Linked DNA regions of Homo sapiens. The protein of the gene in region 2 interacts with the protein of the main gene of each other region in a pairwise test. Each region holds a gene or a part of one and is shown on either strand. Other genes may lie near its edges.

Region 1 (3,587 bases), on a different chromosome or scaffold from region 2:
ACTCGCTTTGAAAATCATGTCCTTGATACGATAAGGCATGACCTCTGATGCCAACTGCTCAGATTCACCCCTGACTCCACCCTTCACTGAGTGACCTTGAACAAGTGAGTTCATCTACAATCTGTAAGATCGATGTGAGGATGAAATCAGCATTTACCTGGGGGAGCTGAAAAGTCACCTTCTCCCTTCTCAGTGATCTACTTCTGTTAATACGACCAAAATATTCAGTGTCTGTGGAATTTCCAGATCATAACTGTTCTATGAAAGGTGTCTAACCACACCTGTATCTTACATGAATATTTGTGCATCTATTGCTGTGAAAATGAGATCTCTACCCCAAAAGTTACTTGATGAAGAATAACTCAATTTGTTACTAATAGTCAATGTATATGAAGCTAATTCTTACAAAGTGAGACAAAACACTTTTATTTTCTAATATGATGTCTTTTTTTAAATTAAGACTGATTTGAACACTTAACACACACATTTTGAGGACCACAAAATAATGTTTCCTAAGATGATTTAATGTCATGGAAAGATGCTCACAGCATATTATTATATGAACAACCTGGACAGAAAAAAAATGTATGTGAGATAAAATAGCAAATTTTTTTGATTGAGGTAGAATTCACATACCACGAAATTCACCATTTCAAAGTGTCCAATTCAATAGCATTTAGTGCACTCACAGTGTCGTGCTACCTTCGTCACTATCTAGGTCCGGAACATTTTCACCATCCCGGGAGGAAACCCCATACTGATTAGCAGTCGCTCCTCAGTCCCACCTCCCCACAGCTGCTGAAAGCCACCAATCCGCTATGCATCTCTTCAGATTGGCCTGTTCTGGAAATTTCGTATAAAAGGACAGTACACTATGTGACCTTTTGCATCTGACGTCTTTCATTCAGTATCATGCATTCAAGGTTCATCCACAGTGTAGTAGGGATCACTGCTTCATTCCTTTTTATGGCTGTGTAATACTCCATTGTATGGATGGACCACATTTTGTTTATCCTTTCATCTGGTAATATATAGCTTGGGGTTGTTTTCATCGTTTGGCTACTGTGAATAGGGCCGCCATGAACATTCACGCACAAGCGTCTTTCTGTTTGAACACTTGTCTCAATTATTTTGAGTAGATATCTAGGATGGAATACAGGACTGTGGAACAGGGTCTTAGGGTAATTCTAGGCTTCACTTTTGATGAATCAGGGGTCATTTTAGTGGGGTCAGAGTGGGTCTCTGCAGAACTCAGCTCAGGGGCTCCACCCGCAGCCAAAGTCCGCCCTCTGCGCGCAGGACCAGCTCCGGCTTCCTGCGGGGCTCGGTGTGGTCAGGCAGGACGCGGAAGCGCAGCAGCGTGAGCGCCAGGACCACCTTCATCTCCGCCATCGCGAACGTCTGCCCGATGCAGTTCCTAGGGGAGGGAGGTGGGAACTCTGACTGCACCCAGGAGCCCCATCCTGGCCCCATCAAGCCGGTAACCTGGCCTGGGACACCCAACCCCACCTAGAGCAGTTTGAGGAATAGAGAAGGGGGTATCCGTGCCTGGATCCCCATGCGGGCTTGCATATCCTGCAAGCCTAGCCGAGCTCCAACCCCCAGCCTAGACCAAGGTGGGGTAGGAGGGGGCTCTGAGCACACCACAGACCCTTCTAGGACCAACCCAACCGTACTCTATGGACCTTTTCCTATAAACTCCAGAGGAGGTGAGGGAAAGAGAGCTGGAACTTGGACCATCTACAATGTCCCCCTTTTCCCCACTGTCATGCCCAGACCCCTGCACCCATCAACCCGTTCCCACCTCAGACACAGGCCGCCCTTACCTGGGCCCTGCCGAGAAGGGAATAAAAGCCAGAGGTGACCTCTCCTTGATGTTCTCTGGGTCAAAGCGAAAGGGGTCGTAGACCTGGAGGTGAGACCAAGAAGGGTTGTTGGGTGGGGTCTCCCAGTCCGCCAGCCTTGGAGAGACAGACAGTTGTGTGTGTCTTTGAGGGAGGTGATGTTGGATACTCCTGATCAAAACCCTGCCCCCTCCTCTAGGAGCCTTGGAATGGACAAAAACAGAGAGAGGGGCCCCGCACCTCAGGGTCCGGCCACACAGCTGGGTTGTGATGGGTTCCGAAAACACTGATGAGGCAGATAATGCCTGTGGGAGAGAAGGGAGCAGTCAGGAGAAGGCCTCCTTCACTGAGGGGCCCCTCTTCCTACCCAGGAGACTCCTCCCCGTGAGGCTGTGAGCACCTTTGGGGATGACCCGGCCGTCTGGGAGCACAATGTCCTGGGTGACATGGCGGGAGATGACCGGGACTGGGGGATGCAGCCGCAGGCTCTCCTTCATGCACATGGTCAGGAAGGGCAAATGGGCCAGGTCGTCCCTAAGGAAACACCCCAGCCCCAATCCTTATCAAGGGAGCAAAGACACAATTCTCCAGCTTCTCTCTGTTTGCAAGTGAGACCTTTTCTCCCCGCAATAAAATAAACTTTTAACAAGAATTGTTACAAAGTCGCAAGAATAAAAATAGTGTGGCACTGTGGCAAAAATGAGAAAACAGACCCATGGAACATGAGGGAGAGCTCAGAAAAAGACATGAGAATAAGTGAAAACTTCACATTTGATAAAGACAGCCCCTGCTCAAACCAAAATCCTGGGAAACTGATGGATTTTACAGTTGTAAAAGAAAAAAGTGGATCAATTTAACTTCACAGAAGTTGAATATGCTCAAGATGGTAGTTTTTGCAGATAAAGGATAGTAATGAAAAGTACCCTCCAAAAGTTGAAAGGCAATATTTTGCAACCCAAGACAGAAAAAAAAAAATCAATTTTGGCTGGGCGTGGTGGCTCATGCCTGTAATCCCAGCACTTTGGGAGGCTAAGGCAGGTGGATCACAACATGAGGAGATCGAGACCATCCTAGCTAACACAGTGAAACCCCGTCTCTACTAAAAATACAAAAACTTAGCGGGGTATGGTGGAGGGCACCTGTAGTCCCAGCTACTCGGGAGGCTGAGGCAAGAGAATGGCTTGAACCTGGGAGGTGGAGGTTGCAGTGAGCTGAGATCACACCACTGCACTCCAACCTGGGCGATAGAGACTGCATCTCAAAAAAAAAAAATCAATTTTAATACACATTCTTAAAAGTAAATATTTTTAAAGAATCCAAAGAAAAAGAGCAAAAAAATAAAGGAACCACTTCCATAAAAAGAAACAAACATCAACACGTGAAAGAGATGTTCAACCTCACTCTTATTTAAAACAATGTCCATCAAAAGAAGAAATATGAAGATTGGCATAGATTTTAAAATTTAATAATACATTAGTAGTATTGGTAAAGTTATGGGAAAACTTGTGCCATCAAACTCAGCTAATAGGAAAGGATTTGCAATGATAATTAAAATTGTACAGTGCAAATGTTCTTTGATTCAGCAATTGCACTTCAGGGAATTTGTCCTGCAGAGATGCTTATACATGCAAGGAATGGTCACTGTGCACACATGCTGACTGCCTCATGTCCACTTTTAGCAAAAGGTTGGAAACAAGCCACATACACATTGATGGGAAGATGTTTAGATAAACAGCCACACGA
Region 2 (7,213 bases):
CTGAGTTTTGTTTGTCAAATGAGAATGATGTCTCTGATGACCTGAAGGTCCCCTCCACCTGAGACATTCTAGGACCTTCCTTTTCCCTCCAAGCAAAGGGAGACTTGAAGCATGGAGAAGGATATTCTCACAGCTTTCGCTGCAAGAGGAGGATTCCTCCCAGCTTCAGAGCAGAAACAAAAGTGAAAGCAAAAGTCAGCAGCCCCCATACCACATCCCAAGTCAGAAGACACCTGAGCTTCTGAAACTTTCCCAGCACCGAGGGAGACAATGCTTCTCTTTTGCATGACTCCCACCTTAATTTGGGGCTGGGGGAAGAGAATCCACACTAAAGCTCCTCACACTCTGGCCTCTTCCAGCCCAAGAAGCCTGAGGGGTTTACAGCCAGGCCTGCAGAGGGAGGGAGGAACGTTGACCAGAAACACAACCTATTAAAACGGGAGCCCCAGAAGCTCCAGCTGGCCTCTGCCTCCAGCTTTCCCATCCCTCACGCAGACAGAGAAACTCCCAGGCCTCGTGACATCTGGAGCCAGCGAGCCGGAGAGTCGCAGCTGGAGGGGCTTGGGTCCTGCCAATACCCCAGACACTCACTCACTACTTCTCTCTGGCAGGGGACCAGGCTGGCAGTTTGGGCCTCATGTAGAACCCCAGAATCTTACCCTTGACCAACAGTCATGAGTGAAGGCCACACATTACTCTCTGCTTCCTGTATGGGCCTCTCCTCCAGCTCCCCCATTCATTCCCACTGCCCCCACCAACCCACAGGCCAGCCTCTCTCTCCTAGGAGTCTTCTCTAGGATCCTCGCCAACTTCCAGGCAGCCAGGATTATCTTCTTAACATATGGATGGGATCAGACGACTTCCCTGCTTAGAGAACTTGAATGAAAGGGACGTCTTTCTCCATGTTGTTCATCTTTGTTGAGCACCTAGAACAGCGCCTGGCCCACAGAAGGTGCTCGGCCAACATATGTTGAATGATTCCAAGAAAGCCCCCACCTGTCCAGTCCAGCTCACTCCGGACCTTCCATTCCCTTTACTTTTCCACACCCTCCACTGCCTGAGCACCTTCCCCAGCCCAGCACACCCCAGGCACTCTCCTGTCGCTGTGCCTTTGCCTGTGCTGTTCGATCTGCCCAGACACCCTTCCTCCCCTGTTCCCTGGGGGGACTCCAGTTCCCTGATGAATATTCTAATACTCTTTTCTTAGCAGGACCTCCTGAGTTATTTCCTTTCTTCTGTTCTCGTCTAAGCCCTGTGACATAACTTACTATAGAATACTTCATGTGCTAGGCATAAATACCCCACCTCGCCCTTGGAGATCATCATCCCATTTTACAGATGAAGAAGCTGAGGCTCAGAGAGGTCAGGTCACACAGCCAGCAAGTGGTGTGGCCTGACTGTATCGCCAATTCTGCAACACTTTTCATGAGTATCCCTGACTCCCTCACTAGGCTGGGGGCTCCCTGAGGCTTCTGGGCTCTGGGTCACTGGGGCAGGCCCCAGACACCCCATCAGAGAGCTGTCAGCTCCGAAGCCGTGAGGAGCAGGTTCACCACTAGCCTCCTCTCTCTTTCTTTGGCCTTTTCTCCCAGTCTGGGGGTACCTCTCAATTGGTGGAGTGAGATATTTGGAGGGGCAGGGGCTCTGTCCCAATAGGTCAGGATCCTCTTGTGACAGGTTTCCGGGGTGTGAAAGCTGTTCACGGTCCCAGGGCCAACAGTTCCCTAGACAAGCTGTTCTCCGGGTAACCCATTCAAAAGGAAAGCCAGAAGCCGGCCGGTCCTAGAGGGGAAAGCCTTCCACCCGCTGACTTACCTCCCGGTTCGGGTCCCTGCCCCGCCCACCTCGTCCCCGCCCACCCCACTCCGGCAGCGCCCGGGTTCCCAGCAGCCAGACCTCCCCTGCTGTTGGGAAGGACCCGCAGTCCCATGCACCGTCACAGGCACCTCGGAGCGCTGCGCAGGACACCCCACGGGCTGCTCCCTGGGGAAACCGTGGGGGAGGGGCCAGGTCTCTCGCCCCCACCGCTGGTTGGGAAAGAGACCATTATCCTGTAATGCAGACCAGGCGCGCCGGGCCAAGCGCCTCCCGTTTGTGCGCTGATTTGAGATCTGATTTGTACTCTGCTCTCCCCTAGGCCCGGTAACGTAACTTACCGCTGAGTGCTTGCTGGGTGCTGGGCATGAATGCCCCGCCGCACCCTGGGACGTTGTCATGTCAGTTTCACAGATGAAGAAACCGACGCGCTCAGGGAAGGACTCGAGTTTCAATCCACTTTGCTCATGCCCGATTCTTTACCCCCGTGTTTGCTTGTAGAGCGACACACACACATACACACACACGAATCTAAATCCCTAAAAGGCCCCGACTTCCATACAGTAAGGGATGCGCGAGCAAAGCGCCAAGGTGGTTTCCTGGGACCTACTGGGAAGTTCTGCTCCTAACCACGCGCTGAAAGCGCTTCTGGCGAAGCCAAGGGTTCGAAGCCCGCCGGGCGGATAGCACCTGTTCCCGCCAACAGGGGGCCCCCAAGGCCAGCTGCCTTCCCCAGCCGAGGCCAGCTGGCCAGGCGCGGTGCCCGGGAGGCGGGAGCGTCCCGCGCCGGCGGGGCGCGGCCGCAGAGGGTGCGGGGTGCGGAGTCCTCCCGGTGGTCGACCCCAGGCGGGAAGCGCTCGGCGGACAGACGGACGGACAGGAGACCCAAACGGGCCTCGGCCCCCTTACACGGCCCTGTGGGGAACCGACAGCGCGCCGCGGGAAGCAGCGGGCGCAAGGCGCGGCGGCTGAGACTCACCCGGGAGGCGGCGGGTCCGGCTCCGTCTCGGCTGGGCGGTCCGGGACTGCGGGCTTCGCGACCCCCGCGCCCCACCCGGGCGGCCTCCTCGGTGGGCGCCGCGATCGCGGGGCTGGGGTTCGGGGGATTCTTAGCCGAGGGAACGCAGTGGTGGAGAGGGCGCACTGCCCTCTCAGGGACCGGGTTGGGGACGCAGGAAGCGCGGCCTGGGAGCGCCGGCGTGCGGGAGGGAGGGACCGCGGGAGGCGGAGGGCGGTGCCGGCCAGGAGCGGCCTCCAGCCCGGAGAAGCACCGCCCACCGGCCGACCCTCCCTCCCGGCCCTCGGCACCACCCCCGGGCCCGAGGCGAGGGATCGCAGCTGAGCGAGGCGGGCACCCACTCCCCAGCGTATGCCGCTGGAGCGCGCTGAGCGTGTGCCGGGGGCTGGGCCTAAGTTCTCCCCAACCCTTGCCAGCCGAGTTGGATAAGAGGGGGTCGGGAGAAAATAGAGCCCTGATCCCCCCTCCTCCCTAGGGCCCAGAGAATCGGTGTGCATGCGTGTGTGCGCGCACGCGCGTGTGTGTGACGGGTGGTGGTCGGGGAATGTCTCAAGCTAGAAGTCCCAGGTTTTAGGGGTTTAAGTGGAGCTGGGAGACCCGCTTTCCTCCCACACCAGGCGCAGACGCCGAGGCACAGCTCCGCCAGCCGCCCCGCCTTTACCTGGCGGGATACTCACCTCTCCTCCTTCCTGGGGAGGCCACCGCCTCCCTCTCCCCCTTCTGCCCTGGGCTGGTTCCCAGCGAGGTGAGTGACCGGCACAAGTAGGGAAGGAGGAAGCGAGTTTTTAAAAACTGAGTCAGCTCACGCCCTCGGCCAGGGTCCCCACCCGATGCGTGGTCCCCAGGGCGCCCTCGGGATCGCACGCCCGAGTCCCGGCCCAGGTGGGGCCCATTCCGGGTTCTTGCGCGCGGGCAATGGATGGGGGCGCGCTGCACCGGGAGCCTGCCCTGCTGAGGGCTCATCCCCAGCTTTGCCGAGAACTTTCCCGGCGAGGCACCGGCTGGCGTTTTCCCAGCCTGCGAGTGGCAGGCGGGCAGCCAGTCTCTGCTCGGATCCACGGAGGCCCGGAGCCGCCACGGAGTTCTGGCTCCGGGGAGTGCAAACCCGAAGTCGGCGCGGAAGCCTCTCACCCGCGGCTCTGCCTCCGCCCCTTGGAGATCTGCCCTCGGAACTGCGTTGCTCTGGCGCCCGAACTAGGGTGGGCTGGTTTCAGCCAGACCGCCAAAAAACGTGGATGCTAAACACAGAGGGAAGAGCCAGCTCCCATTCCCTCTCTGAGCCTTAGATTTTTTTGAATTCCGAGAGAGGTCAGGCCGGGGTCCCCTTCTTGGGTGAGCGTCCAGCCCTTTGAAGTTCAAACACTGAGAAGCCGATAGGCAGCTGGCTGGCGTCACAGGATCGAGCCGAGGACTGAAGGCGCCTCCTACCGGGAATCCACCGCCTCCAGACGAAAATAGGCTGCAATCAAGTTCACTTCCAAAGGCGGAATTCATGGGTACATATGGTGTCCACGTGTGTACACCTGCAGAGTTGTAACATGCGGGCATTTCTCCCCTCAGCCCGCCATTCTGGCTTCTTAACTTGCACCCTAACAGCTCGACAGAACCTTGGCGTCCACAAAAAGGCAAGTTTGGGTCTGCCTTATGATTTGGGGGTGGGAAGGCATTTGGGGAAACAGTCTCCATGTCTATGACAGCAACTGCTATTCCTCACATCCTTGCTATGAACCAGGGGCGGGGTTACCACCCACATCCCCTGAACCATCTCATTTAATCCTCATAACCTAGGAGGCGGTTATTTGTTATGCCCACTTTATAGAAGAGAAGGCTGAGGCTTAAGGAGGTGAGGTCATTTTGCCCAGTGAAAACACAGCTGGGAAGTATCAGGATCTAGACCCAAGATGATCCACTCCAGAGCTTCTGCTCTCCCTCCCATAGCATAATTCCTCCTGTCTGCACATACTCTCCACCCTGAGAGAATGTTCACCTTGCCTGGCCACCTGCAAATGCGGAATAAACATTTGTTGGATGAATGAAAGCCCTAAATAATAACCCATGATTTTAGTGAATAGGGAGGACCCTTTGTGTAGGCAGGTACCTATAATAATATGCTCCCATTTAAGAGCTGTGCGTATTCATCCCAAAGTTTAGACAATGCATGTGGGGACCTTCCCAGGCTCCAAAGGAGTGACAGGAAACAGTCACGTAGCTCTCAGATAAGACCAGGAATCTGGTTTTCATTTGACTCTGCAAGATGGACTTTGGAGAGGCCTGGGGTGGGGGCGGGGGGTGATCATGTCAGAACAGCTGTCCCAGCTCCTAATCTGAAGACAAAGAGCTGCTGTACTTTTCCATGCCAGGGTCATCCCAGACCCGCCCCACTCTGCTGCAGACTCAACTGGGCAGGTCTTGTTTATCACAGGATATCATCTTCAGAGTGTTCCATTTAAGCAGGCTCACCCTGGCTGATCTGGGGAGAGACTGACGAAATTCTCAGGCAAAGCTGAGGCCCAGGCAAAACTGAAGAAGCTACCAAAGGAAGCATGCCTCTCCTTATCCTCCTCTCCTCCACAGCCCTCTCCCTCTACATGGTTAGTTTCTCTGAATCTTCCCTACCATTTATTGAACCCTGTGTTTCACGTGCACTGCATACATTGTGTTCTTTGGTTTTCAAAACAGCCCTAGAAGGAAGATTCTATTATTCTAGTTTTTCAGATGAGGCTGTTAAGACTCAGAGAAGTTAGGTACCTGGATCTGCTAGCAAGTGACAAAGTATTTGAATCTGGGGTCTTTGCAGGGCCCTTGCTCTAAATCACTAAGCTAGGAACCCCCTTCTGTGATAGGCAGAATAATGGCTGCCCAAAGATGTTCACAACCTGATCCCCAGAACTGGTTACTTTACGTGGCAAAAGGGACTTTGCAGATGGGATCAAGTTAAAGATGTTGGGACGGGGAGGTTATCCTTGATTTTCCTGGTGGGTCCAATGTTGTCAAAAGGGTTCCTACAAGAGGGAAGCGGGAGGGTCAGAGTTAGAGAGGGAGATGTGGTGATAGAAGTAGAGATCAGAATGATACAGTTGCTGGACAAGGGTCAGTAGCCAAGGAATGTGGGCAGCCTCTAGGAGCTAGAAAAGGAAAGGAATGGAGTGTCAGCCAGAGCATCCAGAAGGAGCTCTTGGCATCCACAAAAAGGCAAGTTTGGGTCTGCCTTATGATTTGAAGGTGGGAAGGCATTTGCAGATCCGTTTTGGACATCTGACCTCCAGAACTGTAAGAAGATAGTTCACTGTGTTGTTCTAAGCCATGAAGTTTGGGTCAATTTGTCACAGCAGCGGGAGGAAACTAATACATCCTGCAAACTCAGTCACCTAGGCAGATGTTCACTTCACCTGCTTTTTTGGCTAACTGTCCACTGTAAACTTCTGAAGAGGCACCATGATCTAGCCTACATCACGGATTTAGAAAGAAGGCAGGATTCCATCACCTTTGTCTTTGGTTTCTGAATCCTCTGCTATTTGTGAGTTGTGTGACCCTGGGCAGATGTCTTGTCCTCTCTGAGCCTCAGTTTCCTCATGTGTCAAAAAAAAATTATTAGCATTTCTATGCTAATAATACCTATTTTCCAGGACCAACTCGGGGATCAGGTGAACTAGTATGTGACAAAGTACCCAGTGTGGCCTGAACATGAGTTGTGGGAGCATTAGCCTGTCTAGTTCTGAAAGCCTGAATTCAAAGAGGAGAGGATGCTGTTCTGAGAATTCCCGTGGCATTACATTTTTATTCTTTCTGGCTGAATGGGTAAATAACGACAGTTTTAAAATATTCGACTGTCCCTGGTTAGTGACCAAGACCCCAGTCTGTCATGCTACTGACTTTCCAGGCACATCAATGAAAGTGAGGCTGGAAAATCAGCTTATAGAAATAGATCATCATGCAGAACAACTCACACATGTGCTCAGGAACAGAACGTCCAAGGGTTTTCATTGCTGATTAATTGTAACGGTGAAAAGTGGTCACCAACCTCAATGCCCAGCACTAGGAGCTATGCTAAGTAAATTGTGGCATAGACTCATGCTGGCACACTATGAAGTCACCAGAAAGAATGAGGTAGAGCTATCTGACATGGAAGAACGTCCAAGTTATATCATTCACCGAGAAAGGCACTAAATATGATGATACTACACAAACCACTTTTTTTATTTTTTATTTTTTTGAGACAGAGTGTCTGTCACCTAGGCTGGAGTGCAGTGGTGCAGAGGTTGCACTACAACCTCTGACTTCTCGGTTCAAGCAATTTTCCTGCCTCAGCCTCTCGAGTAGCTGGGATTACAGGCGTACACCACCACGCCCAGCTAATTTTTTGTATTTTTAGTAGAGATG
Region 3 (7,035 bases), on a different chromosome or scaffold from region 2:
TTCTCCTGCCTCAGCCTCCTGGAGACCCTCCATCTTTTTTTAAAAAAAAGTCATTTATAATAACATCTCAAAGTAGAAGTTGCTGGAAATTAATGTAACAACAATGTGTAAAACCTCTTAAAAATTATATATATATTAAAGGAGATCTAAATAAATGGAAACAGATCATTTCATCATTTAGAAGACTCAATAATAGAAATATTTGATGCTTTCCTGACCTTAAGGAAAAAAAAAAGAAAAAAAACATAATGGAAATATGCCAATATTCTCCAAATTATTTCACATGGTCAATCCAATGAAAATCTCAACATCTTTATTTTTTGTTTTTGTGGCACAAGACAATGCACAGAATATGCAAAGGTGTAGGCAAAGGCAATCCTATTGAACAAGATGAGAGGAGATGCTTTGTCAGATAACAATGATTATAAAGCTGCTGCTATTAAGACAGTGTTGTGTTAGCCCAAGGATAAACAGGCCAATGGAACAGAATAGAGTGTTCAGAAATAGATCCACACATATCAGTATGTATGATATAAGATAGGGCACATCAGTGAAGACTGAATGTCTCAATAAGTAGCTCTGGGATAACGGCATCCAGATGGAAAAGGTAAAGATCTTAAAAAAAAATAAGATCTAAGTAGACTGAAAACTTAAATGTGAAAGAAAAAAATTCTAAAACTGTTAGAAGATACTGTAAAAGAATATAACTTTAATATCAATAAATTAATAAAACTGACTACATTGATAAACTTCTGTTTATCAAAAGGCCCAACAGAATAAAAAGACCGTGAGAAAGGATATTTGCAAGACACCTAAAGGACAAAGTACTCAAGATCATAAAAAACAAGGAGTGCCTATAAACAGGTAAGAATAGGACAGACAGCCCATTTGAAGAGTATTGGTGAGATTGTGGGGAAATGGGCACTATCATATATTTATGTTAGAAGAATAAATTAGTTCCATACTTTTGAAGGCAATATGGCAATACATATCATTTAATTTAAAGTAGTCATTCGTTTTATTTTTAGGCAGAGTCTTGCTCTGTTGCCCAGGCTAGAGTGCAGTGGTGTGATCTCAGCTCACTGCAACCTCCGCCTCCCAGATTCAAGCTATTCTCTTACCTCAGCCTCCTGAGTAGCTGGGATTACAGGTGCCCGCTACCACGCCCTGCTAATTTTTTTTTTTTTTTGTATTTTTAGTGGAGACAGGGTTTCACCATGTTGGCCAGGCTGGTATCGCACTCCTAACTTCAGGTGATCCACCAGCCTCAGCCTCTCAAAGTGCTGGAATTACAGGTGTGAGCCACCACACCCAGCCAAAAGTATTCATTCTTTAATCTTCAAATTCCAGATCTTGGAATTTTTTTCTAAGGGAACAAATACCAAAGTGGGACAAATGCAAGAAATTAATGTTCACTGCCATATTGCTTGTAATAGTAAAAAAGTAGAGACTTAAAAGTCCATCAGAAGAAAGATTTTTTAAATACGTTAAGGCACATCTATGTAACAGAATACTATGCACTGTTATTAATGGATGGGTAAGTTTATATGTATAGACATAGACAAATAGGGATATGTTAGCCCAGTACAGTGGCACACCTGTAGTCCCAGTTACTTGGGAGGCTGAGGCAGGAGGATCACTTGAGCACAGGTGCTCAAGGCCAGCCTGGGCAATAGAGTGAGACCCATCTCTTAAAAAACAAAATAAAATTTAAAACAGGCATATATAACAATGGAAACCAATTATGAAAGAGATTATATCTATATGTATATATATATAATTGGATTATAGGCATCAGCCACCATGCCCAGCAACTTTCAATTTTTTTTTTTTTTTTGAAATGGAGTCTTGCTGTGTTGCCCAGGCTGGAGTGCAGTCGTGCGATCTCGGCTCACTGCAACCTCCACCTCCTGGGTTCAAGTGATTCTCCTGCCTCAGCCTCCTGAGTAGCTGGGACTACAGGTGCCCGCCACCATGCCCGGCTAATTTTTTGTATTTTAGTAGAGACGGGGTTTCACCATATTGGCCAGGCTGGTCTCAAACTCCTTACCTGGTGATCCGTCCGCCTTGGCCTCCCAAAGTGCTGAGATTACAGGCGTGAGCCACCGCGCCCAGCCAACTTTCAATTTTATTAGCTGAGTTTTTAGCACAACATTATTAACTTTTAAAAACAAACATGTTTGTTTTGAAATAGGCAAAACAACAAAAATATTTTGTTTTGGAAAGTAAATTTATATGATCCTGTAAATGTGTATGATATTTAGTAAAGAAAAATAAAGATGAGTTGCCATCTTGGAAGAGCAGGCTCACTGAACAGCAGTGCTTGTTTCCTCCTCCTTCAGAAGGGTCACAGTTGGTGGCTAGGTAACCCGGAGAAGGGTTTTCCTGGGGTCATCATAACTTGTTCTCATTCACATACCTTTATCCGTATTCTTAGCTCATTTTGCCTATTTAAAAGACAAAAGTCTTTTAAGAAAGTTTTCTTAATTTAATTCACATTTCCCTTAATGATTCCACCAAGACCCAAGCAGATGCAAAAATCTCTTTGTGAGTACACTTTTTCCTGCCTTAAGAAAAAATGTTACCTCTGATACTTGAAAAATTTCACAATTTACCTGTTTTGGTCATTCGAGGCTGCCCTGTCACAGAGTACTTCTACTTGTCAAGAACTTCTTTTCTGTTTCTACACTGTAATAAAATCTACTCTACATACAAATTTTTGCAAAACCTTAAAAACCTTTCTAAGGGCTGCAGAGCCAACTGGGGTATGCAAGCAGCAAGAATCTAATTTCTGAACTAAGAGAATAAGCCATATATTCTGAATGGAACTCCAGACTATAAAAAGGTAACAATGAACATGAATATTGGCCTCAAAGAGATACTATTTTATTTATCCCTAAGGAAAAAACATTCTATTTTTCTTGTTAAAGTATTGTTATGTAACAAGAATTACAGCACCTTTCAAAGAAGAGTTGAACCTTACTTTGTAATCAAATAAATACAGGTTAAAATGGCTAGATACCCTTTTTAATCTACCAAAATAGCAAAAGGTTTTTTGCCCCCTCACCTCACCAAAAATGGCACTTTCTTTTTCTTGTCTTTTTTTTTTTTGAGACAGAGTCTCACTTTGTCGCCCAGGCTAAAGTGTAGTGGTACGATCTCAGCTCACCGCAACCTCCGCCTCCCAGGTCCAAGCGATTCTCCTGCCTCAGCCTCCTGAGTAGCTGGGGTAACAGGTATGTGCCACCACACCCAGCTAATTTTTTTTTTCATATTTTTAGTAGAGACAGAGTTTCAACCATGTTGGGCACGCTGGTCTCGAACTCCTGACCTCAGGTGATCCGCCTGCCTCAGCCTCCCCAAGTGCTGAGATTACAGGCATGAGCCACCGTACCCAACTCATCTCATAATTCAAAAGGAATATTTATTCTGATTCATAGTGACTAATGATACATTCTAACATGTTAGACCATAAATGATTTCAAGAACATAAGAGTAACCTAACCTCTATGCCTGTTCTCCCTCTGCCCTTCAAAAAAATTGTATATTAAATTTGAGGGCCGGGTGCGGTGGCTCACGTCTGTAATCCCAGCACTTTGGGAAACCGAGGTGGGCGGATTACGAGGTCAAGAGATCAAGACCATCCTGGCCAACATGGTGAAACTCTGTCTCTACTAAAAATACAAAAAGTAGGCTTGGTGGCGGGCGCCTGTAATCTCAGCTACTTGGGAGGCTGAGGCCAGACAATCGCTTGAACCAGGGAGGCAGAGGTTGCAGTGAGCTGAGATTGCACCACTGCACTCCAGCCTGGCGACAGAGCGAAACTCCGTCTCAAAAAAGAAAAAAATAAATAAAAATAAAAATAAAAATTTTTGTATTTTGGTTTTCATCAGATACTCCAAATGCCAACAACAAAATAGGTGTCACGCACTCCTACATTCCAAGTTGAGGGGCTGGACCGGACACTTCCAATCTGAGATTCTACTGCGATGCTGCAGAGGCCATTGGAAAGAGGTCCTAGTGGGCTGTGGCATTTCCCACAAGTCAAGCCCAGAGAATGGCCTCAACAGAACCATTTGTAGAGCTTGACATGAGTCTCTGGAATTTGGGGAAGGGTTTAATATCTGATTCCAAAGAGTAAACACTGTTTGGTCTGCTTGCTGGGAGAGAAGGAAGCACCGCCACACTGATAACTGCATGCACTTGTAGATTATCCCACTGGAGGGATACGGAAGTTGTTTACTGTGAGCCATACAGATCCTGGAGAAGGCACTGAACATGAGTAGGTTTAAAAGGGACCCTGTACCACAGACCCACCTGAAGGACGGAAGTGATCTCAATAAAAGGGTAATTCTCCCTAGAACACAGACTCTGAGGGTGAAACTGCAAGTGGCATGCTGGAGGGGGTGTCTGAATGAACCATCAAGGAAACTGCAGAAGGGAGATCCCTGGTGATGAGTAGTGTCTCAAAAATCTACCACATCCCCTCTAGAGAGAAAGAGCCAATACTGGATATGCAATATACACAGTACCTAGCTGCCTGATCACAAGGCAGCAGCTGTTTATTGTTTTTTTTTAACTTTTATTTTTTTTGAGAAAGGGTCTTGCTCTGTCACCCAGGCTAGAGTGCAGTGGTGCGATCTCGGCTCACTGCAGCCTCTGCCTCCCGGATTCAAGCGATTCTCGTGCCTCAGCCTCCTGAGCAGCTGGGACTGCAGGCACGCACCACCATGCCTGGCTTTTTTAGTATTTTTTGTATTTTTAGTAGAGATGGGGTTTTGTCATGTTGGCCAGGATGGTTTCAAACTCCTGGTCTCAAATGATCTGCCCACCTTGGCCTCCTAAAGTGCTAGGATTATAGGTGTAAGCCACTGCACCTGGCCAGCAGCAGCTATTTAAGGCTGAGCCTTGTTCTCCCTAACTATTCCCACTATCCCAAGGGACCACAAGCAGCGATTATTAGTGAATAGAGGAGAAGGTGAAGTGCAAGAGAAGATATCAACTGCACCCTTCTCCCCACTGCAGGCTCCTGAGCCCCAGCTGGATGAAAACAGACATTTTGAATTAGAAGAAAGTTTATAGTTTTAACAATAGACTGGGCTAGAATAGATAATATCAGATGGTGACTGGAAATCCTACGATCTGTTTGAAATTCCATCCAGAGATACGGTGGAAGGTGGGGAACGATCTACAAAACAAATTTACTTGGAGAGGGGTGAGAAAGAAAGAATAAAGTTACTTTCTGCTCCTCTTCATAGAAAGTCTAGCTTGTGGCCAGGCACAGTGGCTCATGCCTATAATCCCAGCACTTTGGGAGGCGAAGGCAGGCGGATCACCTGAGAGGTCAGGAGTTCGGGACTAGCATGGCCAACATGGTGAAACCCCGTCTCTAATAAAAATACAAAAATTAGCCAGGCATGGTGGTGGGCTTCTGTAATCCTAGCTACTGGGGAAGCTGAGGCAGAATCGTTTTAACCCAGGACGTAGAGATTGCAGGGAGCCAAGATTGCGCCACTGCACTCCAGCCTGGGTGACAAAGCAAGATTCCCTCTCAAAAAAAAAAAAAAAAAAAGTCTAGCTTATTTGTTTAATAAACAAGAAAACAGAGTAAGATCATTCTATTTAACATACTTAGCAGTCTCTGACATAGCAGTACCCAATCAATATTATTTTTATTATTGAAACATAGTAATAGCAATACAGTATCTTATTTTCCACTTTTAGAATAGAAAAATAATAGAGGTGATAGTATATCTTGACCAGAAATTAATTCAATTAATTATTATCTTGACCAGAAATTAATTGGAAAGAAGCAATTTGGCATTTCCATAACCATGTTTTTCATTGTACCATACTTTCTGTATATGCTTATATAAAGTACAAACATAATTTTTTCTTGTATTCTCACATAGCATTAACCTATACTAGCATCTCCTGAGTGGGGTCTGGTTTGGGGGCTTTTAACTAGCATTGCATCCTAGAATTATCTGTGGAGCTTTTAAAAAGAGCACATTCCTATCTCTGAGGCAAGACTTACCCAATCAGAATCTCTGGGTCTGGAAACCAGACGTGTGTATTTTGAAAAAGCTCCTCAGGTGGCTCAATTGTAAAACGAGGATTGTGAGTCATCGGCCTAGGTCAGTCACTTAGCTCTTTTGTAAACTAGAAGCCAGGCTCCTATTCCTAGTCTTTTGATCTAGTTGGGGCTACCCAGAAAATTTGTTAAAAAATAACAAAAGTCATCTGAATTAGATAACTAAGTAATTGGTTAACCAACATAAACAAAATGAATGCATTCATCAAACATTTACTGGGTACTGCCTCTGCTCCAGGCTCAGTATCAGGCATGGGGATTCCGCTCTACCCTGAGAATATTCTCAGCCTACAAGTGTGTGAACTATTTAAATGTGGCTGCTCTCAATTTATATTAGCTACTAAGAGAAAGGCAACAAACACCTACTTCAAAGACTTACTTGCACAATACTATGGCATACAAGGACTCTCCCACATGAATCAGCCAGGCAAGCCAATACCTGAAACCAAAAAAAAGGTTAATCTTTTTTAAGGTGATAGTTATCTGCTGATGAAATCTAACACAGCAATCTCAAAAAGAAAAGTGCCTTAAGGTGAACCGACACTACTCTTAGATACCAAAAGGCAGCTGCAGGCCTTCCAGGTTTCCCATGAGACCAGAGCTCCAGTGTCCACAGTCCACTTGTGCAGCTCTCCTTACCCATTGCACAGGAGGGTGTGATGGTGGTCCACCAAGTACTGAGTGAAGGGGCCCAGGGGCCCAAGGTTCTGATAAGGGATACTCTGAGGCCAGAAGACAACCCACTGAAAGAGAAGCAGAGACACAGAATACCTATTAGGTCACTTAAAACCTGTTTTTTGTTTTTGTTTTTGAGAAAGGCTGTGAAACAGTAAAAAAATTACCACAGACCGAAGAAACTCTGAACAGTCATTTGGGTCTCCATTCTTGGCTTCTATTTTCTTTCTTTCTTTTTTTTTTGACAGGGTCTCACTCCGCTGCTG
Region 4 (7,035 bases), on a different chromosome or scaffold from region 2:
GGCCAGCGGAGAGATACACAAGGGCAACAGGGTTGCTGCTACAGAGTGTTGGGTTCAAATCTCAGCTGCAAACTCTATAAGCTACTTCCGTTTCCTGAGTCTCAGTTTCTTCCTCTGGAAAACAGAAGTGCTACCCATCTGAAGGACTTTTATGGAGATTCGGTTAAATGGGCCCTTATGGGTACAGGAGTAGCCAACATCTGTCCTGGCAGGCTGGGAGGCAGCAGAGTGCTGTGTTTAAGGTCACGGGCACTGGAAGTGGAGAGGCCACCTCCAGGCATGCCTCTATCTGTGAAGCCCGGGGCAAATGACTTAACCTTACCGAGCCTCACATCTCCTCATCTTGGCAGCGGAGTGAACACCGCCGACCTCTTGAGATTGTCATAAAGATTAATTTGAGAACAAGATACTTAGTGTAGGGCGCAATGTAGCAGACACTTAGAATGGGGACGGGGGTCCCTACCTCGTTCATCTCCTCGATGTTGGTGATCATGACAATGATGGGCGTGTGCTCCTGCCACACCATGCGCCAGAAGTCGGCGACCGTGCTGACGATGGGTCCCTGAGTGGCGATGTACACCTTCTCCTCCCCACCATAGCCCTGCGGCCAGCCAAGTCCAGGCTGTCAGGGTCAGAGGCAGTGCTCCCAGGACCCCATCCCCACACTCAGGCTCTTCACAGGAGCTGGCAGGAGCCAGACTGGTGTAGGGACAAGGCTGGAGGATGGATCCCATCGACTCAGGCCTCCCCTTGAGCAAGAGGCCGTCAGGGTGGGAATACGTACCCGGATGTAGTTGGCATTGATGTAGGAACTCAGAGGGTCGTCAGGGTCTGGTGAGGTCAGACACACTCTGCTGTGAGGGTCTGGGGTGGTGGGAGACAAGTAAGGCTGGAAACTGGGCCCTCTGGTGCAGGACCCACTTGCTCTGGCCTATTCCAGCATACCCACACTTCTTCTGCGACATTAGCAGTTCTTCCTTCCCTTGCCCAGCAGCAAAACATTGACCCATTCATGGTTCATTTTGTAGGTGAGGACTCAGGATGAGGAGGAGGGTGGAGAGAGAGGGGGGTCCCCGGGTCTCTACCTCTGTCTCTATCCTTAGCCTGTGCCTCTTAAGTTGCCCTATACTCACTGCATCTTAGCTTCTGGAGAGGAGACAGCTAAGTCAACAATGGAATTACCTAGGGAAATTCCTGTACAGATCTTGTTCAGCAAGAGACAGCTAGCTTGAGTACACACTGTCATTGACTTGCTGTGTAGGCTTGTAAAACACATGGCCTTTCTAAGCCTTAGTTTTCCTATCTGTCAAATGGAGGCAAAGATGCCTACTTGCTTGGGCTGTTGGGAAGATGAATGAGAAAAGAGATGTGAAAGTTCTGTGTAAACTGTAAAGTGCTTTATAAATATAAAGGGCTGTTAAGATTCGGGAGTAGAAAGTTGACGGAGGCTATTAACATGAAAACGATAGTCTCCTCTATCTGGATTAAGACTGTGGGGTCTCAGCCTCATGTCCACATATGCAAAAAGGTTTTTTTTCCTTTCAATTTATTCACATGTCAAATCCCATAGTAAAAGGGTCTCTGTCACTCAGCTGGAGTGCAGTGGCACGATTATGGCTCGCTGCCGCCTCAAACTCCTGGGCCCAAGTGATCCTCCTGCTTCAACCCCCTGAGTAAGCAGGACTAAGCCATGAGCCACTGCACCTGGCTAAATTTATTTTTTTATTTTTATTTGTTTATTTTGGTAGAGATGAGGTCTTGCTATGTTGACTAGGCTGGTCTCCAATTCCTGGCTCAAGTGATCCTCCTACCTCGGCCTCTCAATGTGCTGGGGTTATAGGCATGAGCCACTGTGCCCAGCCCCCACTCTGCTCTTCTTCCTGGAGTAGATTTTGTTTTGTTCCAGCTACAGCCTCTCTGCATTGACTATTCTGTCAGCCTGCAGAGGCCAAGACTGAGGTTGTATGGGGTAAGGGGGAAGCTGGCTGGGGCCCCAGATTCCTGGGTTCTGGTTTAGTTTTGTCATCAGCTCACTTGTCCAGGCCTCAGTTTCTTTCCTATAATAGGGAGGACTGGACTAAAGGCACTTCCAGTGTGCACATTAGGAGGCTCTCACAGGCAGTATAGGGGAGTCATTAAGAGTCTACACCGCTGAGCCAGAGAGGCTAGGTTCAAATCCTGATTCTGACTTACTAGCAGTGTCAACATGGACAATTTACTTTATCTCCCTGTGCCTTATCTGTAATCTGGGGATGGTCATTCCACAATGACCTTGCTTATCTTGTAAAGGAGTTAACTTTAACAACTAGAGTCCTTATGCCAGTAACTAGGACCAACACGAAGTATCAGTTGCTGTTATTCCTGACATTATTACAAGTTCCACAAGTTAAAGGATAAAAAGAAGGATCCTAAACCCAGTAGGAGAAATTGGGGAGGTAAAGGGCACAAGCTTCGCCTCTTTAGCCCAACCCCAATGTCTAAGGTTTTGGCAGGTGATTTGGGGCAGTTCTTGTGAAGAGGGGGTGTAGAGGGTGGCAGGGATGGAGAGGAGACAGGGTAAACGGGAGGGGGGCTTTTGGGGGACCTGCAGCAGAGAGGGGCAGGAAGCTCTGTATGGGCCGTCTCCCTTCTCCTTGTCTGCAGGCAATGCTGTTCTGTCAGATTCACGTGCACAGTGCAGGGTAGGGAGTGGTGAGTGGTGAGGCTGGAGAGGAACCAGGCGACAAAGGGTCTTATAAACCAGGCTTAGAAAGCTGGATTTAGGCCGGGCGTGGTGGCTCAAGCCTGTAAGCCCAGCACTTTGGGAGGCTGAGGTGGGCGGATCACTTGAGGTCAGGAGTTGGAGAGCAGCCTGGCCAACACAGTCAAACCCTGTTCCTACTAAAAATACAAAAATTAGCCAGAAATTGCTTGAACCCAGGAGGCAGAGGTTGCAGTGAGCCGAGACTGTGCCACTGCACTCCAGCCTGGGCAGCAGAGTGAGACTCTGTCTCCCCCAAAAAAAAAAAAAAAGCTGGACTTAAACCTGAGGATTACGAGGGTGACAACAATGATGGCATTTAAGGAAGAGAATGACACAATTAGATTTGTTTTGCCTCATTTTGGTGACAATGGTAGAAGATGGAGAGGAGAGTGTGGAAGCCAGAAGACCAGTTAGAGGTTTACTGCAATGATCCAAGTAAGAAGTGTCAAGGATCACAGGGCTGTCCAGCCTGGCACGGCTCCAGGGGGCACTTATGTCAATGTAGTCTATGTAAATTGTGTCCCCTGGAATTGGACAACATGAAAGCCCTAACCTCAAAAACATCATTTGGCAGTGAGGCTGGAGAAGAGGATGTAGATTTGAGAGATATTATTCATTCATTCATTCAAATAGGTGCAGACCCCGGCATGGTGGCTCATGCCTATAATCCCAGCACTTTGGGAGGCCGAAGCAGGCGAGGACAGCTTGAGGCCAGAAGTTTGAGACCAGCCTGGTCAACAGAGCAAGACCTCCATCTCTACAAAAATTAAAACAGTCCAAATAGGTGCAGAATGTCTACCATGTGCCAGGCAGCACTGCTTTGATGCTTGGGACACGGCGGAGAAGGGGACAGAAATTGCTCCCAGCATCTTGTTCTCAATGCTGCCTGTGGGTTACTGTTCACTCTGACTGTAACTGTGCATGGACCTCTCTCCCCCGCTAGGCTGGAAGCTCCTTGTGCACAGAGTCTGTGTCCTATTTATGTCTAAATCCTCAGCCCCTGGGGCAGGAGCCGAGGAAATGTGTGCCCAGTGAATGAGAGAACAAACCTCAGCGCGTCCTGGATCTCAGAGGCAGCCTCTGCTCAGCCTCACCTGCCCTCTGCACCCCCCAACCCAGTCTCTGAGGGCACAGGCTCCATTCTTGCTGGACACAGACAAGATTCTTTATTGGGCTCGGGGGCCTGGAGGCTCAGGGCATGGTTGGAGGCAGCTCAAGCCTCTTGGAATGCAGCGGGGACTGCATCTGCACGGAATCCTAGTCTGCTCCCACCTTCCCCCAGTGGCCATTCTGAGCAGCCAGCAAAGTCCAAGGTTCTAGGATACTCGAGTCCCTCCCTCCAGGTAGGGCTGGGATCGGGGAGGGCAAGACGAGGGAAGAGGTGAGCATCCCTGAATAATGCATCCTGGCCTTAAATGGCTCTTTGTTTAACCGGAACTACCTAGAGACTGTGTAACCATAGCAACTACAAGTCGATATTTTAAAAGTTAAAAATAAGTCATGACATCTTACATGTTGTTGGAGATGCTGATGGCAAAACTGCTTTTTAAAAGCCTCGCTACTCCACAAACTGAATGGAGTAGGTTTATGGGGATTCACTTTCAACAAGTCAACGCCCAAGCTAGCCCTGGGGACTGGGGTCAGAACTTGGCGAGGGTGGCAGGCTCATCGAGGCTTGATAAAAGTTATCTGAAAATGATACCCCAGGGCTGAAAGAGGAGCATCAGGTCACCTGGTCTAACTGCCCCCAAAGGAGGAAAACCCCTTTCAGACCTTCTAGGGGACTGCTCGTGCCGCCTCACTTGAATATACTGAGTAATGGGGAGCTCACTCCCTGACAGAGACAACTCATTTGCCTGTGGGAGTGGATGTCCCTGTTAGAGGGCTTACAATTCGACCACACTCCACACAGTGTAGACAGAGAGCCTGACTCTGGGATCACAGAGGCCCAGGTCTGAAATTCAGCTCTGCACTTCCTAGCTGTGGGACTGCAGGTGAGCCACTTAACCTCTCTAAGCCTTAACTTCCTTTCCTTAAAATCTGCCCACTCTGAAAAGAGTTTCGGTTACCACAGTGTGGCTAGGAACTGCTGTCATTACCACCCTTTCTCTTTGGGTTTCTAGAGGGTCCAGCACAACATGTGGCCAGGCAGGGCAAAGGACCAGAGAGTGCTGTGCGAGGAAATGTACTCGCCTCTGGCCTCACCAGGGCAGCGCTTCCCTTCAGCCAGCAACCCCCAGCCCTCTGTCCCACCTCCTCCAGTCCTGTCACCCCTAGAGGCCCAGCTGAGGGTCCTCCTCAGGGTGAGGGGATCCCCAGGTGAAGCTGAGCCTGCCCCCATCCCTCTGGGACAGTGAGTACTCACTGGGAAGTATGGTTTTGTACCGGTTCTTCCGCACCAGCCCAGGGATGTCGTACTCTTTCGGATCCACAAAGTTCATGGGGATTTCCTGTGGAAGGAGGACACGGGGTGTGAGCAGCTATGGGCCCTCACAGATGTTTGAATCCAGGGGCTGCTGTGCCCCCAACTCCTAGCCCAGGGGCTGGCTTGAGTGCACGCATTCATTCAACAAACATTTACTATTAAGAGAGTTAGTGCTCACGACGCATTCAGAACAGTGCCTGGCACATGCTGAGTGTGTAATAAATATGATAATGACTATTGTTTATGGAGAGCCAGCCTGCCATATATAGACAGTCAATAAATAGCTGATGAATGAAGAAAAAGACAAAAAGTGACCTGGCCAATGGCTGCCTTCTTCCATGCTCCCTGGGCAGCATTCCTCCCTGGGCATCCCTATCTCGGGACCTAGGTTCGTGCTGCTTGCTCTGTGGTAACACACACCCCATCCTCATCTCATGTCCCGCCTCCTCTGAGAAGCCTTCCCTGATTCTCCAGAAGGAGAGAAGCCTCTTTCTGAGATCCCAGGAATATCTGCACCTCCCAACCACTGTCTGTGTCCAGAGCTCTGAGTCTGAACTTCTCTCCTGGCATGTGAGGGCTTCTTGAATCTGGCCTCTCTTTACTTCCAGTTAGGCCTGTTTCTCCCCTGTTGTTAATCTGCTGTTCTCAGTCCTGCCTCTGAGTCTGAGCTTGTGACGTTCTGCCTCCTGAGGGCGCTGGTCTCCCCTACCCCCATCTCTCCAAGTTGTTCCCACCCTTTAAAGTTCACCTCTGCCCGGGCGCGGTGGCTCACGCCTGTAATCTCAGCACTTTGGGAGGCCGAGGCAGGCGGATCACAAAGTCAGGAGTTTGAGACCACCCTGGCCAACATGTTGAAACCCCATCTCTAATAAGAATACAAAAATTAGCTGGACCTGGTGGCGGGCCCCTGTAATCCCAGCCACTAGGGAGGCTGAGGCAGGAGAATCGCTTGGAACTGGAAGGCGGAGGTTGCAGTGAGACAAGATCGCACCACTGCACTCCAGCCTGGGCAACAAGAGTGAAACCCTGTCTCAAAAAAAAAAAAAAAAAAAAAGTTCACCTATGAGTCTGTCTCCTCCTGACATCTTCCGGGATGACTCTCCATGCCTCTTGCCTCTGCATTTCCTTCCAGTCTGTCCACCAGCTTAGCCCCTGACTGCACCTAACTTCACACTGTTCATTGTTTTTGGACACACTAAGTATGGGCTTTGTAAAATGAGGATCATCACACTTTCCAGGATTGTGAAAATCAAAATAAAAATACAACACGTGCAAAACTGCCCCCAGAGTGGGTGCTCAGGCCACGCTCCTTCCTCAACAAAGACCCACCGGACAGGAAATGAGGTAGAGGATGTGATTCTTTCTCGAAGGGGAGATGATGGCAGTGGGAGCTCAGAGAAGGAGCTGAGGCTGGGGTGGTTAAAGAAGGCTTTCTAGAGGCATCTGGAGTGAGTGATGATGTGAGCAAAGGCACAGGAGGAGAAAGGCACGGACGAGACTGGCCCAGTTTGAAGTGGACAGTCCCTGCAGGGGTGGGGCATGGGGCATAAGGCTGGAAAAGGAGGCTGGGGCCACACGAGGTAAGGGGTGCTGATGGTGTATGCAGGTGGTACCAAGTTCTGGAGAACTTGGAGCAGCAGATCAGATGATGATGGAGGTCTTCTCACAGGGGAGAGCTACCCGGTCCAGACAGGCCCAGGGCGGAGGCCAAAGGAAGGGAGCTATGAGGGAGGAGGCACCTGCTTCTGTACCCCTGTGGCTTCTACCAGGAGGAACTCACCCCAGATACTCTTGGCCTCTTGCCTTTTCCTGCTCACAGAAGTGAGGAGTTACCTGTTTGGTGAATTTGGTTGAGGAATGGAGCTTT

Evidence for each region.
Region 1: the proteins of TMEM51 (region 2) and CYP4F2 interact in binary tests that used the Homo sapiens proteins (3 or more experiments, as listed by UniProt).
Region 3: the proteins of TMEM51 (region 2) and TMEM254 interact in binary tests that used the Homo sapiens proteins (3 or more experiments, as listed by UniProt).
Region 4: the proteins of TMEM51 (region 2) and PTPN5 interact in binary tests that used the Homo sapiens proteins (3 or more experiments, as listed by UniProt).

The regions. Positions count from the first base shown.
Region 1 is NC_000019.10:15,877,520-15,881,106, forward strand, and holds the end of CYP4F2 (cytochrome P450 4F2 precursor), read right to left. Parts: intron 2,379-3,587; coding exon 2,245-2,378; intron 2,150-2,244; coding exon 2,085-2,149; intron 1,910-2,084; coding exon 1,827-1,909; intron 1,418-1,826; coding exon 1,252-1,417; 3' UTR 504-1,251; downstream 1-503. UniProt on the Homo sapiens protein: A cytochrome P450 monooxygenase involved in the metabolism of various endogenous substrates, including fatty acids, eicosanoids and vitamins.
Region 2 is NC_000001.11:15,149,536-15,156,748, reverse strand, and holds the start of TMEM51 (transmembrane protein 51), read right to left. Parts: upstream 3,003-7,213; 5' UTR 2,795-3,002; intron 1-2,794.
Region 3 is NC_000010.11:80,081,643-80,088,677, reverse strand, and holds part of TMEM254 (transmembrane protein 254), read right to left. Parts: coding exon of another isoform or gene 6,937-7,035; intron 6,838-6,936; coding exon 6,734-6,837; intron 6,534-6,733; coding exon 6,474-6,533; coding exon of another isoform or gene 6,470-6,473; exon of another isoform or gene 6,461-6,469; intron 2,448-6,460; coding exon of another isoform or gene 2,408-2,447; exon of another isoform or gene 2,212-2,407; intron 1-2,211.
Region 4 is NC_000011.10:18,732,772-18,739,806, forward strand, and holds part of PTPN5 (tyrosine-protein phosphatase non-receptor type 5), read right to left. Parts: intron 5,194-7,035; coding exon 5,109-5,193; intron 865-5,108; coding exon 785-864; intron 602-784; coding exon 464-601; intron 1-463. UniProt on the Homo sapiens protein: May regulate the activity of several effector molecules involved in synaptic plasticity and neuronal cell survival, including MAPKs, Src family kinases and NMDA receptors.